Regions from separate parts of the Homo sapiens genome. Here region 2 is linked to region 1. The links come from fine-mapping of genetic effects on gene expression. Tissue or cell type: nasal epithelium. Region 1 holds a variant in brackets; the other region holds the start of a gene. All regions are shown on one strand. Distances are between the middles of the regions.

The links. PIP is the estimated chance that this variant, and not a neighbour inherited with it, causes the effect.
Region 2: ANKRD6 starts here. The variant in region 1 is fine-mapped to the expression of ANKRD6 in nasal epithelium (TOPMed, PIP above 0.99).

What each region holds. Positions count from the first base shown.
Region 1 is chr6:89,597,356-89,605,490 of GRCh38, forward strand. It overlaps ANKRD6 (ankyrin repeat domain 6), which reads left to right. Exons shown (of 16, transcript NM_001242809.2): 4 at 5,674-5,772. LOC124901359 (a long non-coding RNA gene) reads right to left here. Exons shown (of 2, transcript XR_007059673.1): 2 at 8,049-8,135. Among named protein-coding and RNA genes, the nearest start is that of MDN1-AS1, 37 kb to the right of the region's middle. The variant C/T (reference allele first, on the strand shown) is at 4,139.
Region 2 is chr6:89,429,702-89,437,836 of GRCh38, forward strand. ANKRD6 (ankyrin repeat domain 6) reads left to right here and starts at 3,451. Exons shown (of 16, transcript NM_001242809.2): 1 at 3,451-3,674. It overlaps LOC124901360 (a long non-coding RNA gene), which reads right to left. Exons shown (of 2, transcript XR_007059675.1): 1 at 3,716-8,135; 2 at 507-2,886. RefSeq lists a silencer at 3,243-3,722.

The DNA.
Region 1 (8,135 bases):
AAGATTTTGGCCACAGAAAAGGTGGGGAATTGAGTTATTACTGGTGCAAACATGTTGGGATGCATTTGGTCTTCTCTTCGCATAATTAAAGGCTTTGCTTGCCACAGTGGCAAGGCCAAAATGCCAGGCATGCTAACCCATTCCAACTTGACACCCCTGCCTCACATCCTGGGCTCTAAGTATCACTGTGTTCTCATGCAGCAAAAGCCTTGCTAATTTCCTAGAACTGCTGCTGTTTATACCAGGCAAGGTAGGAAGTGAAACAGGCAAGAATTTTCTTAGGTAGCCAAAGTGAGACGTGTCAGCAGAAGAAAAGCCAGCTCTACTTTTAGACAGAGAGAGTCCCTTTTATTTATTGAAGGTATTTTCTTGCATCTTTTCCTTGTCCTAGAGAGACAATGCATATATTGCTTCTCCCAGATAAATTAAAATAAAAATACAACAACAAGAAATAATTGGGAGTGGAGAAGGTAGAATTGACCTTCACTAGTTCTGAAGAAATGCATTTGCCAGCAATATGATCCATGCCTGTTCTCTGTGTATTTACCATGCTGTTGATGACCAGCCTTGAAATACATGCAAGAAATCAAGGAAGAAAACTCTTGATGTGTGTCCTTTAAAGAATCTAGGAGATCAGTTATTTGAAAAAATCTCAGAAGTTACCTGTCTTGGATGGTGGGTAGAAACAGAGAATGTTAATGATATGAAGAATTTACTCCTAACTTCATATTCTACAGATACTGATCTTTATGGCATGGTAAGAACTGAGAATTAGTTGAAGAATGACCTCCAGTGGCCTGGAGTGGGATTATTATGAATTTCAACCTGTGGAAACCAGTTCTTTAGATTATGCAACTCCAGGAGCAAATTCTTTCTTGCTTCCTGCCAATCGTGTCAACTCTCATTGGAGCGCTAATGCCATCTCTGATTGGTCAATGAGCAATCACATAGCTCCCGCCTCAGAAATAGTCCAGGATGCTGTGGCCACAGTGAAAGCCATGAAAGAAGACAAAAATAAGAAAAACCACAGAGGGAAGGTTAGGAAGGACCCTAGAAGATCAGAGAGAGAAAAAGAGGTCAGCAACTTGCTTTACACACCTAACCTGTCTTGAGCTTCCTTGCAGTATGTCTGCCTGTGCCACATGGGGGTGTTTCCTCTTGAAGAGGCGCACACTGCACCCTTGCATGACTGAAATCTGCCAACACTACACTCACTCTTTTTCACCATGTAGGAAAGAAAAATAACAGTATTTCAAAACAAAGATTTAGACCTTATAGGCACCAAAGCTCTTAAAATCCCAAAGTGAGAAACACTGTCTCAGAAAAACTGAGAGCTGGCAGTTCACGTACTTCGCAAATGGGTCAACATGTTCCAAATCAAAGTGCCAAACTGCAAGGTTGCAGGCCCTTCAGGTTTCCAGCTACAGCATCTTTCCTTCTGCTTCTTGTAGTTAATCATTCAACAAATGCTTTTGGGGCAGCTCTAGTGGCTATGCTTTACTTTATGAAAGAGGCAGTCCCAACCCCACAGATGCATCTGACCTTTTCTGAGGCTCGTCCTAAGGTTAATGACTTCACAGGTTGGAAGCAGCTTGGGGTGAGTGCAAAGAGCCTTGACAATTTGATTTCTGGTCCAAGCATGCTGTCCTAGGCTTATCAATAAAATGAGAGAATTAGACATCAATAAAATGAGAGAATTAGACTTGGCACACAGTAGGGAGTCAATAAATATTCAGTCCGGGCCTGGTGGCTCACACCTGTAATCCCAGTGCTTTGCGTGGCTATGGAGGAAGGATTGCTTGAACCCAGGAGTTGGAGACCAGCCTGGGCAACATGGCAAAACTCCATCTCTACAAAAAATAAAAAAATTAGCTGGACATGGTGGCAAATGCCTGTGGTCCCAGCTACTCAGGAGGCTGAAGTGGGAAGATTGATTGAGCCTGGGAGGTGGAGGTTGCAGTGAGCTGAGATCATGCCACTGCACTCTAGCATAGGTGACAGAGTGAGACCCTGTCTCAAAATGAGTGGATGTTCACCAAATAGATAATTCAGTAAACACTGTTGAGAGTGCTCTACCTTTTCCCAGCATTTAAGAATTTCATGATTGACTTAGGTAGGTATCATATGCAAGTAAGAATTATGTCAAAGTAGCCACTTGTATGTATTGAGGCCACATCTTGTTTCTTCGTGTCATTTCAAGGAGGAAATGTTTCAATGGTAAATTTTAATCTTATAGGAGGAAAGAGTCCATTTGTAGATAACTGACCCTGTTTCAACTGAGGGCCTCAAGGTACTAAATTGTTTGTGTTGTATTCTAGGGAAGAATAGATCCAAGATGATAACCTGAGGCAGCTATTGTTTACATGTTTCATGTCTCTCACCTCAGAGCCTTTAATTCTCATCTTGGTTACTTGAGAAGGGTGGGTTTTTCAAAGCCTGAGAAAGCGTATTGCCCAGTCCTCCAGAACCATTCCAGCTAGTGTCAGCACAGCTAGCAGTACAGCCAAGGACAGCCACTTTTGGTAGGGAGAGTCCGAGCCTGGCCTGACAGCAGTGTTTATCTGACCCGGGCTCTCGGTGAGGTCTCTGTCTGAGAGGACGGCTGGAGGGGGAGCTGTGGCCTGGAAACAGGCAGGACAGCCAAAAGGTCCCCCAGAGGAAGGGGTGTGCAGGACCTTTGCCAGCAGCTTAGGACACTATGTGTTCTCGCCGCAACCTCACACAAGTCATTAGATTTCCTTGAGTCTTGCTAGTCTGGAAATGTCCTCCCAAGGTCTGAACTGAAAGTTAGATTGAGCTGCTTGCATTGAGCTAGAGTTTCACAAAGGAAAATTTTCTCAAAGGAAGCAAATACAGTAGATTGATGATGAAAGCAAGTAATAAATAACTTGGTGCCATTCCGGCTCCAAAGATACCTCAACTCATAATTTAGAGGGCAGCTTGTGAAACATGACAAAAAATATTTGACCTAAACCAAGGCTTAGGTTAGTCTGTGCCGTACCATCCAGTGAAGGCCCTTCGTGAAATAATTTGTACAGCAAGAGTGGCTAACACGACCCATATGCTCAGGGCTTGTTGCTCATACTTCATGAACAATACAGAGTGATAAGCTTTGTCCTGGAAAAAGTTGTTTTTATTGGTCCAAAGAGCACTAGAGTGTAAGTAGTTTGTGGTTATATTAAAAAGCCTGTAAGAAGTGGAAATCTAACCAAGTCAGCACTACCCTGAAAGCGTGAGCTGCAGTCGCGTGGTTCTTGCTAAGAAGGGCACTGTCTTTCTTAGCAGGTCAGTAATCATCATTGCACTGGAGGCCTATTTTGGGAAATTCCGTCACCATTCTGATAGAGAAATGGGAAGTCTTGGAAATCTTACGGAAATTTTAAAAAGTTGAGACGTGGGGCCAGGCACGGTGGCTCGCGCCTGTAATCCCAACACTTTGGGAGGTGGAGGTGGGCAGATCACTTGAGGCCAGGAGTTCAAGTCCAGCCTGGCCAACATGGTGACACCTTATGTCTACTAAAAATATAAAAAAAAAATTAGGCATGGTGGCAAGTGTCTGTAATCCCAGCTACTCTGGAGGCTGAGGCAGAAGAATCGCTTGAACCTGGGAGGCAGAGGTTGCAGTGAACCAAGATGGCACCACTGCACTCCAGCCTGGGCGACAGGGCGAGACTCTGTCTCTAAACAAAAACAAAAAGTTGAGACTTGGGCAGTATCTCATATGATTACTAGTTTCCTTGTCTAGAACTGCTTTCTAAGAGGTCTGAGGTAGACAGCGCAAATGGCACAGCCTACCTCCTGCAGCCACTGACCCAGCGGCCACATTCTTTTTTTAACCACTGCAAGGGTTCTCTTTGAATAAGGGGTCTGGGAAGGTGGATGAGAAGAAAATCAGCCTGAACCTAACTGATAACAGGAATAATAGTTTAGGATGCTGAAGGGGGGAGGTCGGTGGTGGCAGTGCTGAGGACAGTGATCTGTCCTCAGTGTCCTGACCCCCCCTCACTGCAGAAATTCCTTACCTTCCACAAATGAACAGTGGGAAGAGAGTCTGTGACAGGGACAGTCCTGTTACTGGGGTATTGTTTCTGCTCAGACTTCTAATAAGTAGCGGTTTTTCCTGATGCTAAAAGTTATC[C/T]GTGTTAAATATAAAAAGCTGGAAAATATTAAAAAGTATAAAAAGTTAAAAGAGAAAAATCCTTTCATGGATTTTTAAAGGGAGACTTTTTAATTTTAAGAAAGCAATTTTGAGTTTTAACTAGGATTTTTTATTGTAATAAAATATACATAGCATTAAATTTACTGTCTGAACATATTTACGTATACGGTTCAGTGGCATTAAGTACACTCACATTGTTGTGCAACCATCACCACCATCTATCTTTAGAACTTTGTTTCAGATTACATGTTTTTAATGTGCATTGTTTGTTACAGATCTGGGGAGTTTAGTAAGTAGAATCAGTATTTCGTTAAGGTTGTTTATAGGTAGCAGTGCATCCTTCTTTTAAAAAATCTGTTTTATCTTATGATGGCCTCTGTCCTCTTTTGGGCCAAGCACCAGGGACGCCCCAGAATGTTTTCTTTGCCCCTCTGGTGCTCTGCCAGGAAACTTCACAAAACTCTGACCAGCCACATCATAGAATCCAAGAAGGCAATGGAGGGACCCTGGGATCATCCAGGGTGACACACCTGAGGTCCAGCAGGGTGACAGGCTTCTAGCAAGCCATGCACAGCCCAGGCCTCCTGACCCCTTGTCTCGTGCTCATTGCTTTCCACCAGAACATTTCCACACTGCCCACCCATCCTCCCTTTCAAGGCTGGACCACAGGCTCAGCTTGATTTACCTCAACTTAGCTTCCTGAGGACCTGTCAGAGATAAAGGGTGCTCTTAGAGACTTCAGAACTCTCCTGTTACAGTCTTGACCTGCTTACCTCTGGGAGTGTTTCATCCTTCACTCAACTGCAATTAGGAAGAGTCAAGTTCCCTTTGGCGCCTAAAGGAGAACAACGGCCGGCAATCCCAGGAATCCGATCATAGAGAAGAGGGCTCAGAGTGCAGCATAAATCAGTGAGGATGTTGTCATGAACTCTCTGAAGAGGCTTCTTAGAAATATGCAGTGATAGCTGCAGTCCCTGGAGTCCTCAGATGAAATAGGGCAAACCCCTGCATTGCCGTTGACTAGTACAGGTCAATGAACAAATGACCCGCCTGTCATCAAATCATGAGTGCTGCTAACTGGCAGAGCTGGACAGTGGTCCCCCTGCAAGCTGGAAACTCGGCAGGCAGTAGAGATTCCAGGCATTGCTGCTTTAATTGCATAGCACACACCTGCCCTCACACCCACTCTTCACACCTGTGATAGTCATAGCCCCTGGATGGCAGGAGAGAGCCTGACCCTCATTTTGAGGTTGGCTCTGTGGCCGAGGGCTATTCTTGCTGTCGGCTTAAGGTCCCCCTCTTAGTTTATGAACAAAATTTCTCTGCCAGCGTGCGTTGTCTACTAACAAGACCACAAAGCCCGCCTTGCCTGTGGTAACCAAGCCCTTCTGCGAATAACCGCTCTGCTCTGTGTGGGGACGGGAGGGGTCCTTGTGTCCAAGTGTCAAGTGAGTAGTGCAAGCAGGGGGTGCAGGGGAGCTGACTGCTGTTCCTGCCTTTGTGTCACTTTGCAGGGGGACCAGACCGCCTTGCACCGGGCCACAGTGGTGGGGAACACGGAGATCATCGCGGCGCTCATCCACGAAGGGTGTGCCCTGGACAGACAAGACAAGGTGAGTGGACACTGAGCTTCCTTACTCCCCAAGGCAAGGGAAGCCAGTGGCTCAGGGGAGCTGGAGGAGCCCGCTCTGGAAACTTTTGAGTCCTCGAGGTATTATAATTCCTGTCTTACCACTTATGATTTAACATGATTAAATCAGCCTAAAATTCCTTTGAAACACTATCTGGTATCCCAGCCAATTGTAATTTTTTTTTTTTTTTTTTTTTTTGGAGAGAGGGTCTCACTCTGTTGCCCAGGCTGGAGTGCAATGGCATGATCATAGCTCACTGCACCTGGAACTCCTGGGCTCAAGTGCTCCTCCCACCTCATCCTCCCAAAATGCTGGCATGAGCCATTGTGCCCAGCTGCCAATTGTATTTTTTAAAAATCTTTTTCCTTGTTCTATGGCACCAGTGACAACCACATAAATCTTAAATGGTAAAGAAAAAAATCTAGAAATAAGGACCTATGTAGGCCTGGGTCGGGGGGGTAAGGGATGTGCCCCAGACTTTCTCTTTACTTTCTTAGATAAGTGAGCAAGTTAATTTCTTTAAACTATATTGCAGGGAAAAAAAAGTAAGCTCAACTGGGCCAAACACAGTGGCTCACGCCTGTAATCCTAGCACTTTGGGAGGCTAAGGTGGGAGGATTGCTCGAGGCCAGGACTTCAAGACCAGCCTAGTCAACATAACAAACCACTGTCTCCACAAAAAATTTGAAAATTAAGAAAATATATATTAGCAAGGCGTGGTAGTGTACACACCTGTAGTCCCAGCTACTCAGGAAGCTGAGATGGGAGGATTGCTAAGCCCAGGAGGTTGAAGCTGCAGTGAGCCATGACTGCATCACTGCATTCCAGCCTGGACGACAGAGTGAGACCTTGTCTCTTAACAAATAAATAAATAAGATTGATAGATAGATAGCAAAATTGGCCAGGCGCAGTGGTTCATGCCTATAATCCCAACACTTTGGGAGGCCAAGGCGGGCAGATCACCTGAGGTCAGGAGTTCGAGACCAGCCTGGCTAACATGGTGAAACCCCGTTTCTACTAAAAATACAAAAAATTAGCAGGGCATGGTGGCGCATGCCTGTAAACTCAGCTACTTGGGAGGCTGAGGCAGGAGAATCGCTTGAACCCGGGAGGTGGAGGTTGCAGTGAGCTGAGATCGTGCCATTGCATTCCAGCTTGGGCAACAAGAGCGAAACTCTTGTCTCAAAAAAAAAAGAAAAAGAAAAATTGATTATTTAAGGAATCCTAATGACTTCTTACATATTAACCTAATGTTTTTAAATTTTCAAACAATCTTAAAACACAAAACTTCACAATTAAGTGCAATTCAGCCTCTGCTTACTTTTTTTTTTTTTCTTTAAAGAGGCTATGCTGGGAAGAACTCTGCTTTACTTTTTAAAAATAACTTTTCATTAAAGTATAATATACATACAGAAAAGTGGACAAATAAGTGTGCAGCTTGTTGAATTTCACTAGCAGAACACACCTGTGTGAGCACCCAGCTCAAGAAGCAGCTCATTGCCAGCACCCAGAAGCCCCATACCCTGTGCCCCCTGCCCCTTGCATCCCCGCTTTCCTTTGGCTTCCTCCTTCTGCAGTCAGTCCCACTGCCCGGGCCACACACCGCCAATACAGTTCCCAGCAACCACCCCATCCCCTGGCCTTTGAGACCCTAGACTTCCCCTTGTGGAGGTCAGCTGTGTTAGGCCTTTATTTTTAGCTGTTTCTAGGGGCATGGATGTGGTTGAGTTAAAGCTGAAGCCAGAGCCTGGATGTAATTGGAGAATGCACCTGCACTGACCTCTGCTGATTGCCCTGCACCCTTCCTTCTCCGGGCTCTTCCCTCCCTGGAACTCCTGCCTTCCCGCCCCCACCCCACTCAATTCATTGCACTTAATGATATTTATTTGTTTAAAATAGTAAGCTAAGCAAATACGAGCTATGTTCATTAAATGACTTCTATTTAAAAGCAACACATTAGGCCGGGCACGGTGGCTCACGCCTGTAATCCCAGCACTGTGGGAAGCCAAGTGGATCACTTGAGGTCAGGAGTTCAAGACCAGCCTAGCCAACATAGTGAAACCCTGTCTCTACTAAAAATACAAAAATTAGCAAGGCATAGTGGTGCATGTCTGTAATTCCAGCTACTTGGGAGGCTAAGGCAGGAGAATCGCTTGAACTCTGGAGGCAGAGGTGGCAGTGAGCTGAGATCACACCACTGCACTCCACTCTAGGTGACAGAACAAGACTGTCTCAAAAAATAAAGGCCACACATTGAGGATACTTGTTTGTTTTATTTCCAAATCACTGTTTCCTCAGTCCCTGTTCATTATTTGTTTGGGGCCCTGAGGCTTTTGAATTAAGGT
Region 2 (8,135 bases), 170 kb before region 1:
GACTTCGTGATCCACCCGCCTCGACCTCCCAAAGTGCTGGGATTTACAGGCGTGAGCCACCATGCCCGGCCAGATGACTTTCATATACAGGTGTTAGAAATGAAAATTGGTATGACCACTTTAGAAAACAATTTTAGAAAACAACCAGTTTAGACAGTTTGACATTACCTAGTAAATTTGAACGTGCACTTACCTTAAGACCTGATGATTCCACTTCTAGGTATATATCCTAAAAAACATTCTTACACACATGTATCGGAGAAATATTTAAGAATATTCACAGCAACACTGTTTGCAATAGCAAAAACTGGAGCCAATCCAACATCCAAAAGTAGAATGGGTAATTAAATTGTGTTATGTTTTTACAACAAAATACCTATATAACAGAGAAATCAGATAGGTGAATCTCAGAAACATAATGCTGGGCAAAAGCTGCAAGTTGCATGGGAATAATGCAGAATGATTCTATTTTAAAAAAGCTCAAAAACACGCAAAAACAAACCATGTAGTGTTTAGGGACACATATATTTGTGATAACATAATTATTAACACAAAACTTAGGATGGTGGTTTCCTCTGAAAGAGAAGGATATGATTATAGAGCGGCAGATGGAAGGGTTCTTCCTTGAGTGGAAGCTTTAGCAAAGGCAGTTTCAGTGGAGTGGCAGGGATGGAAGCCAGAATGGTGTGTTGAAGGCTGCGTTGAAGCTAACAACATGAAAGACAGCTAATGCAGTCAGCTCATTAAAGACATGTTGTTGAAAATAGGAGCAGATTATATTATCACAAAGCAGTGAAAATGATCATTTGCAGAGCAAACTTCTTTCTCACAAGGCAGAAGGAGGGTGAGCTAGGGTGAATATAAGAGGCTGGCTGTGATTGAGCTGAACGTAGGGGCAAGAACAGAGCTGCAGCCTGGGAGCCCTTCTCATAAAGAGGGAGATTTAGGAGTCTTCTTCGTTGGTCGCCCAAAGACTGTCTGCCCACTTGGAGATAAGCAAGCAAGATCTCCAAGCAGCTCAGCCACTGCCTGCTTTGGCTCTCATGAGACCTCCTGCCAGGAATCCCCATTAATCAAAGTCTGGGAACAAAAGCAGACCAGTCAGTTCCCAGGAGCGCTCACATGTCTTGCAGGCTGGCTTGGGCTTTCTGTTTCTTTCGGGGTCATTGCTCTGACTACCCACAAATATAACTTAAAATCTCATCTCAATGTGACTTTCTGGTGATGTTTTAAAAGCCTATCAGGGAAACTGAGCATTTGCATCTTTGGAAGTTTATTCGAGGGACTAGCTAGGAAAACTCAATGTGGAAAAGTACAAGAGAGAAATGATCACATTGAAAGGTCATGTGGCTGGGCGCGGTGGCTCACACCTGTAATCCCAGCACTTTGGGAGGCTGAGGCAGGTGGATCACAAGGTCAGCAGTTCGAGATCAGCCTGACCAACATGGTGAAACTCCGTCTCTACTAAAAATACAAAAAAATTAGCTGGGCGTGGTGGCAGGCGCCTGTAATCCCAGCTACTTGGGAGGCTGAGGCAGGAGAATTGCTTGAAACCGGAAGGTGGAGGTTGCAGTGAGCCGAGATTGCACCACTGCACTCTAGCCTGGGCAATAAAAGCAAAACTCCATCTCAAAAAATAAAAAGAAAGGTCATGTGTACAAACTTTGACTTTGAGGGTTATCTAGGAACTCATTAGTAACCTGCCTGGAGAGAAACCTGGAGCTACAAGCCAGCAGAGAAAGGAAATGTGTTCTTCTATCAGCTCCAGGTGTAGAGCAACAGGAATGGGGCACAAATCTGAAGAAGGGCTGGGCGCGGTGGCTCACACCTGTAATCCCAACACTTTGGGAGGCTGAGGCCGGAGGATTACTTGAGCCCAGGAGTTCAAGACCAGCCTTGACCTCCTCTGTGTTAAACATAAAAAAATTAGCTGGGCATGGTGGTGCACACTTGTAATCCCAACTATTCAGGAGGCAGAGGCAGGAGGATTGCTTGAGCCCAGGAGTTCAAGACTGCAGTGGGCTACTGCACTTCAGCCTGGGTGACACAGCAAGGCCCCATCTTAAGGGGGAAAAAAAAGTCTGGAAAAGGCCAAAGGATACTCAGAAGAGAGATTTCACATCCTGTTAGGTAAAACTGCAGCTGTGACTATGGGGTTGGGAAAATTTCAGAAGCAGTAGGAGAAAATCAAGAACTTCCCCTTCCTAGTGTGGAAACAGGCTCTTGGGATCTCTCCTGCCTAATGATCCCTGAAGGAGAGAGGGAAACAAACATCTTAAGGAAAAGGAAGAAATCATCATGTTTCTTTTCTCCTGGAAACCAGGCCTGTTTCAGAGGGAATAAGAAAAGTCGGCTGGGTGCAGTGGCTCATGCCTGTAATCCCAGCACTTTGGGAGGCCGAGGCTGGAGGATCACGAGGTCAGGAGTTCGAGACCAGCCTGACCAATATGGTGAAACCCCATCTCTACTAAAAATACAAAAATTAGCCAGGGATGGTGGCGGGCACCTGTAATCCCAGCTACTCAGGAGGCTGAGGCAGGAGAATCACTTGAACCTGGGAGGCGGAGGTTGCAGTGAGCCTAGATGGTGCCATTGCACTCCAGCCTGGGTGACAGAGTGAGACTTCGTCTCAAAAAAAAATTTTAAGCAAGAAAGAAAAAAAAATCAGATTCGTGATAAGCTTGTCCCAAAACCTCAGGTAAGATTGATAGTCCATTTTAGGGTGCTGCTTGCCTCCTCTTCCATCTCTCCGCCTTTGGAGAGCAGATACCTGTCCATGCTTCTTCAAAGGGTGGAATGAGATCCCATCCATCTTACATGTATTCAACAGTAGCTTATTGAATGCTTCCTGTGTTCAGGGAGCTCTTCTAGGTATTGAAGAAGTGGCTGTGAATGAAAATAGACAAAACCAGACTGAGATAATGGTATGTAAAGTGTGATATGAATATGGGGGTCAGGCTCGCTCAATGCTTTTGCCATTTCCATATGGGATGATTCCAACAAGATACTTATAGTCAAGCTGTTAGAAATAAAGGCTTCCTTTCCCCTCTCCAGCTACCCCAATAAATCTGGGTCATTCATCATTGTTGTTCAGTTTGTACTGAGCAGCCCCAGTTAAGTGAGCTATGGTTATATTGAAATATCCACTTGGCCACGAATTGAGTGAAGGTGGGAGGTTCCTCCTGCTAATTCTCCTCCCCTCCCAATACACTTCCTGGCAACCCCCACGCGGAAAACCTCACCCTACTATAGGCCCCCTTCCTCCCACTCTTCAGAAGGCGGTGGCCCCACCCAGGAGAGGGCTGCAGATCGGGGCCAGCCCCAGGGCCTCCGCGGTGCCACCTCTCTCTCGCGAGGGTCCCTGCCGTGCCCCGGCTCGCCGCTGGGAGGCGCTGCGGCACCGGCGTAGGAGCCGCCGGCAGGGGTGGGGCGGGGCCGGCGGGACGGGGCAGAGGGCCCTGCGGCGGCGGACGCGGCGGGCTCGGCCACAGGTAACCCGCAGGAGCCGAGAGCGCTGCCTGGCGCGCGGGCGGCTGGAGGCACGGCGCTGGGCGGCGCCGAGGCCCTGGGGCCGCCGGAGCCAGCGGGAGCCAGTCCCCGTCTTCGCCCCTCGCCCCCCACCGTGTCGCCGGCCTTGGTCCCTGCGGCGCGGACGTCCGGCGCGGGAGAGAAAGGTACCAGGCGACCTCGCCGGCTCCCTGGGACCCCCGCTTACACCGGGGTGGGCGCCTCAGGTCGGGGAGGACGCTGTCGGGGGAAGGGGGCGCTGCTCCCTCGGCACCCCAGGATCGCCGACTGCCCGCGGAGGAGACCCGGACACCGCGCCTCGCCCCCTGGCCTGCGGCCTCCGAAAACGCCCGGCGCGAGGGGGTCCCCCCGGGGCGCCTCCCTCTTCGCCTGGCATCAGTTGCCTCCCTGGAATATGGAACTTCGGGCGAGGGAGGTGGAGAACTTTCTTCTGGGGCTCGTCCCTCGTTCTCCTGCTCGCTTGCAGTTTGAAGGAAGGGCGGTGGGGGCGGGGGTCCGAGTACCCCGCGGTCTGCGGCGCGTAGGAGGGTAGGTCCCTGGCCTGCGGCCGCCTCCGAATGACCCCGTCCCTCCCCGCCCTGGACGACAGCACTAGGGTGCAGTCGCAGGAGAGGGGCCGATACCCCTCAGGAGCCCCATCGGCGAAGCCTCAGCAAGTGGCATCTCCCGGGGTCCAGAGAGTCGGCGTGCTGTCTGGTTTGGGTCCAGACATCAGCTCACCCAAGCTTATCTTGGGCTTTTAAGTGTGTTGCTTCCGGTAGATCTCGGGGACTGGAGGGGAAGTGCAGCATTATTTGTGACCCAAGAGGGACTTGAATGTCTCAAAGCTGGTCAAGAATGTTTCCCCCGCGAGGTAGCATGAGATGGGTCACGTGGTAGTAAAGAGCCACTTCGGGCCCGTGAGATGGAGTTCTGACTCCACCACTTGTTAGGTGTGTGACTTTGGAAAACCCACTTCTTTAAACCTTAGTTTTTAGAACTCTAAACTGCAGGTATTGTACATAACCTCGTAGTATTGTGTTCATGCAGTGAAGTGATGGGAATGAAATGCTTGGCATTGTACTCTTGTGTGTTAGACACCTTTTGCGAACCTGTTGGATGTTGAATTCATTCATGCTTAGGTTCTGTTAGGCCAGTGTAAGTGGAAAGAACTTGGGCAATGAAGACAAACACACCTGGGTCCAAGGTGGTCCCATCCATGGTATACTGATTGGGGGTTTCTCATCCCCAAAACACCAATAGCAGCCTTGGCGGGGTTTTTGTTGTTGTTGTTTTGAGACAGAGTTTCGCTCTGTTGCCCAGGCTGTAAGCTTTGACCTCCTTAGCTCAACCGATCTTCCCACCTCAGCCTGGGACCACCACACCTGGCTAATTTTGAATTTTTTTATTTTACTAGAGACAGAGTCTCACTGTGTTGCCTAAGCTGGTCTCGAACTCCTCCTGTCTCAGCCTCCCAAAGTGTTGGGATTACAGGTGTGAGCCACTGTACTGGTCTGCAGCCTTGTTCTTGAGTGTAGTAGGTGTGTCTATACCGATACATGTTACACTTTGTCATCTTTAGTATTTGTTTAGCATATGGTAACAAAAAATTTTTTAAAAATTAGGGATACAAATTAAAATTGGGGAGTATTTTCTGCCCTCTAGGTCATACTGGACATGGGGGAAGGGTAGAAGAGGGATGAAGAGGAATTAAAGAGACCAGAAAACAACTAGTCGCAGTGTTGGGAGGTATAAACCAATGGTAATTTTTAAAAATGTGAATTTATTAACTCCTTGTTTTTTCATGGTGGCACCAAAAATTAATCTTAGTCTCCCACTTAAACTCATCAGCCTCCCCAAAGCCTTTCCAGATAAGCATATGCTCCATGTAAAAGCAGACTGCCTGCGATCCAACTCAGCTTAGAGACAAGGCACACTTCCAACTCCCAAGGCCTCCTTCTTGTATAGAGATGCTGGTGCTGCCACTGTGAAATACATCATACACTCAGACAGTATAAACCTTAGAGTGCAATGTAAAGAATAACAATAGATCACACCCAAGTACGAGTCACCCGGCTGAAGAACTAGAACATCGCCAGGCCCCTGGAGCCCCTGAGTACCCCTCTCCATTGCCTTCCACTCACTTCTCGCCTCCCACCCAAGGAACCACTATTCTGGATGTTGTGTTAACTTTTTCCCTTGCTTATATGAAAAACCCTGAGGAAAGGAAGTTTCCCAACAAGCATTTCCACAATAACCTGGAGCATTCTTTATTTTTCTTTTTTTCTCAAGGAGCATTGTTATTGAACTTAAAAGCAGGCTATTGAGGGTAAGATACAAACCACAAAAAAGCCGAAAGTCTCAAAGTCGGGGGATCTTTTAGTCTCTGTCTTCTTCCAAGTTTCTCCTGTCTCCCTGGCACGGATCCCGAAGGTGTGTTCTGTCTGTGTAGGGGAGACCCAGTCTCTTCCAACATAGATTGATGGCTGTGATTTTAAAAGCTTTGCTTGAGTCCCTAAGAAGTGGGAAAACAGTAATTTGGGTGCGTGCGTTTTAGAAGTTTTTTTAAAAATGCAAATTATCCAGAAGGCATTGTGTGGGATTTGAAGGATTAAGCTAAGAGTGACCTTTAAAAATGGTTTTAACAACCCAAATTCCTCTTCCTGGTTGATATGTTTGTGTTATTGTCTTTGTTTTATTTCTTCAAGGTCACATGGCTTTCCTTGGTGAATCTTACACTGTTTTGTTACTTCTTGGTTAAGGCAAAGATTCTGAAACTTGGTTTCATGGAGCCCTTAGTGTCTGAGTTAATTTTTTCACAATTCCCTTAGGCTTCAGTAGTTAGTAATTTTTTCACAATTCCCTTAGGTTTCAGTAGTTAGTAGTTAGGTTCAAACAACTGAGTATTTACTTAGAAGTTGTTTGAAAAAATAATATACATAAACTGAGAGAAAAAATATTTTACATCCTTTAAAGTCATAATTACTAACCGTATGTGTGTGCCTATACTACTTTTCAAACCTTGGGATCGTGTTGGACACTGCCACTCTCATTTCCTGTTTCACATTAATATTTCCGCAGCATTTGGCTTTTATCACAGCAGCCACAGAAAACCCAGCTTTGCAAAGATGTATTGTCTTGGATAGGAATGTAACATGATCTACTGTTGAAACTGCAAACTACCTCCAGTTAATAGGTTCAGCAGTGTCCAGACATGTTTGGTATACTAGTTTCCATTGAAATTTTCAGATTTTCTACATTGCCCATTTTAATTTGCTATAGTTGCAAAACACCCAGTCAGGGGGTCCAAAATAGTAAACTTTGAAAACATTATGCTAGGTGAAATAAGTTAGTCACAGAAGGGACAATATTGTATGATTCTGTTTATATTAGGTACCTAGAGTAGTCATACACATGGAGACAGAAAGTAGAATGGTAGTTACCAGGGGTAGGGGGAGGACAGAATAGGGAATTCATGTACTATTTTTGCAACTTCTATGTAAGACTAATATTATTTCAAAATAAAGTTTTTAAACGTTTTTTAAAAACAAATTCTGTTGATGGTGCCCCACTGCTGGACTGTACCAAGGCACTGAGGTTAGGGACAGCAGCAGAGAAAAGCTTAGGGGTGACATTATCTCTATTTCCCAGCTCTTCCTCATCCCGTCAAGGGGGAAGAGATGGAAGAAATAGCTATGTTCTCTCTCTTTTATAGGGAAGTGTCTGCATTATTTACTGGTGGGTTCCTTTATAAACCTGAGGATCAGCTATTAAATTTGTCACTAAAATAAGAATTTTTAACCTGGGGTTCAGTGGTGGGCTACAAATACTCTAAGATCTCCCAAAATTATGTATAAGTATTTAAGTGAATGCTCTTATGTATGTTTGAGGGGGAAGAAGTTCCATAGCTTTCATCAGATTCTCAAATGGTTTCCTAAGTCAAAAAAGGTTAGTAAGCGCTATAAGGAAATATTTACAGATTCCTACCTACCCCCACCCCATAAAAGGCCCCTTTATTTGGATGTCTTATCCCATTTCAGTTCTCTGACATATCTTTCCCCCACCAGTTACAAGAGGCTTTCTTTCTGCTCAGACCCCAGATAAGCCCGACCAGTTCTTTTTCCTCAGAGCCCCCAGCTATTCATCTGGATCCTGAAAACTCCAGGACCAATTCCTCAAGAGCCAAAGGAAGTCCCAGAATGAACATCTTGGACTTCTGAATAGGGCAGATGTGGAACTGAAGTCTCACAACTGCCACATCTCTCTGTGCCCTCCTTAGGTCTAGAAAAATATGAAGTAAATAATAATATATTAGGTACACAGCTATGGAAAAACTCATGAAGATGGTACTGAATGACTGAAGTCCAGTACATTCTGCTTTGGGGGAGGCAAATTTAATTTTAAGAGTGTCTTCTGGTTTACACTTTATGTTCCAAATGTATTCTAAATATAGCATACAATACGTCCTACCTTGTTTCATATCCAGTGATACAGATGAGCTATAGAATTTACACAGTGTTAGAAAAGATGTTAAATATCAGAATTTACTTAATAAGTAGGTCTCTACTCATTCAGACTGGTTTCATTTTATTTTATTTTATTTTTGAGGCAAGGTCTCGCTGTCACCC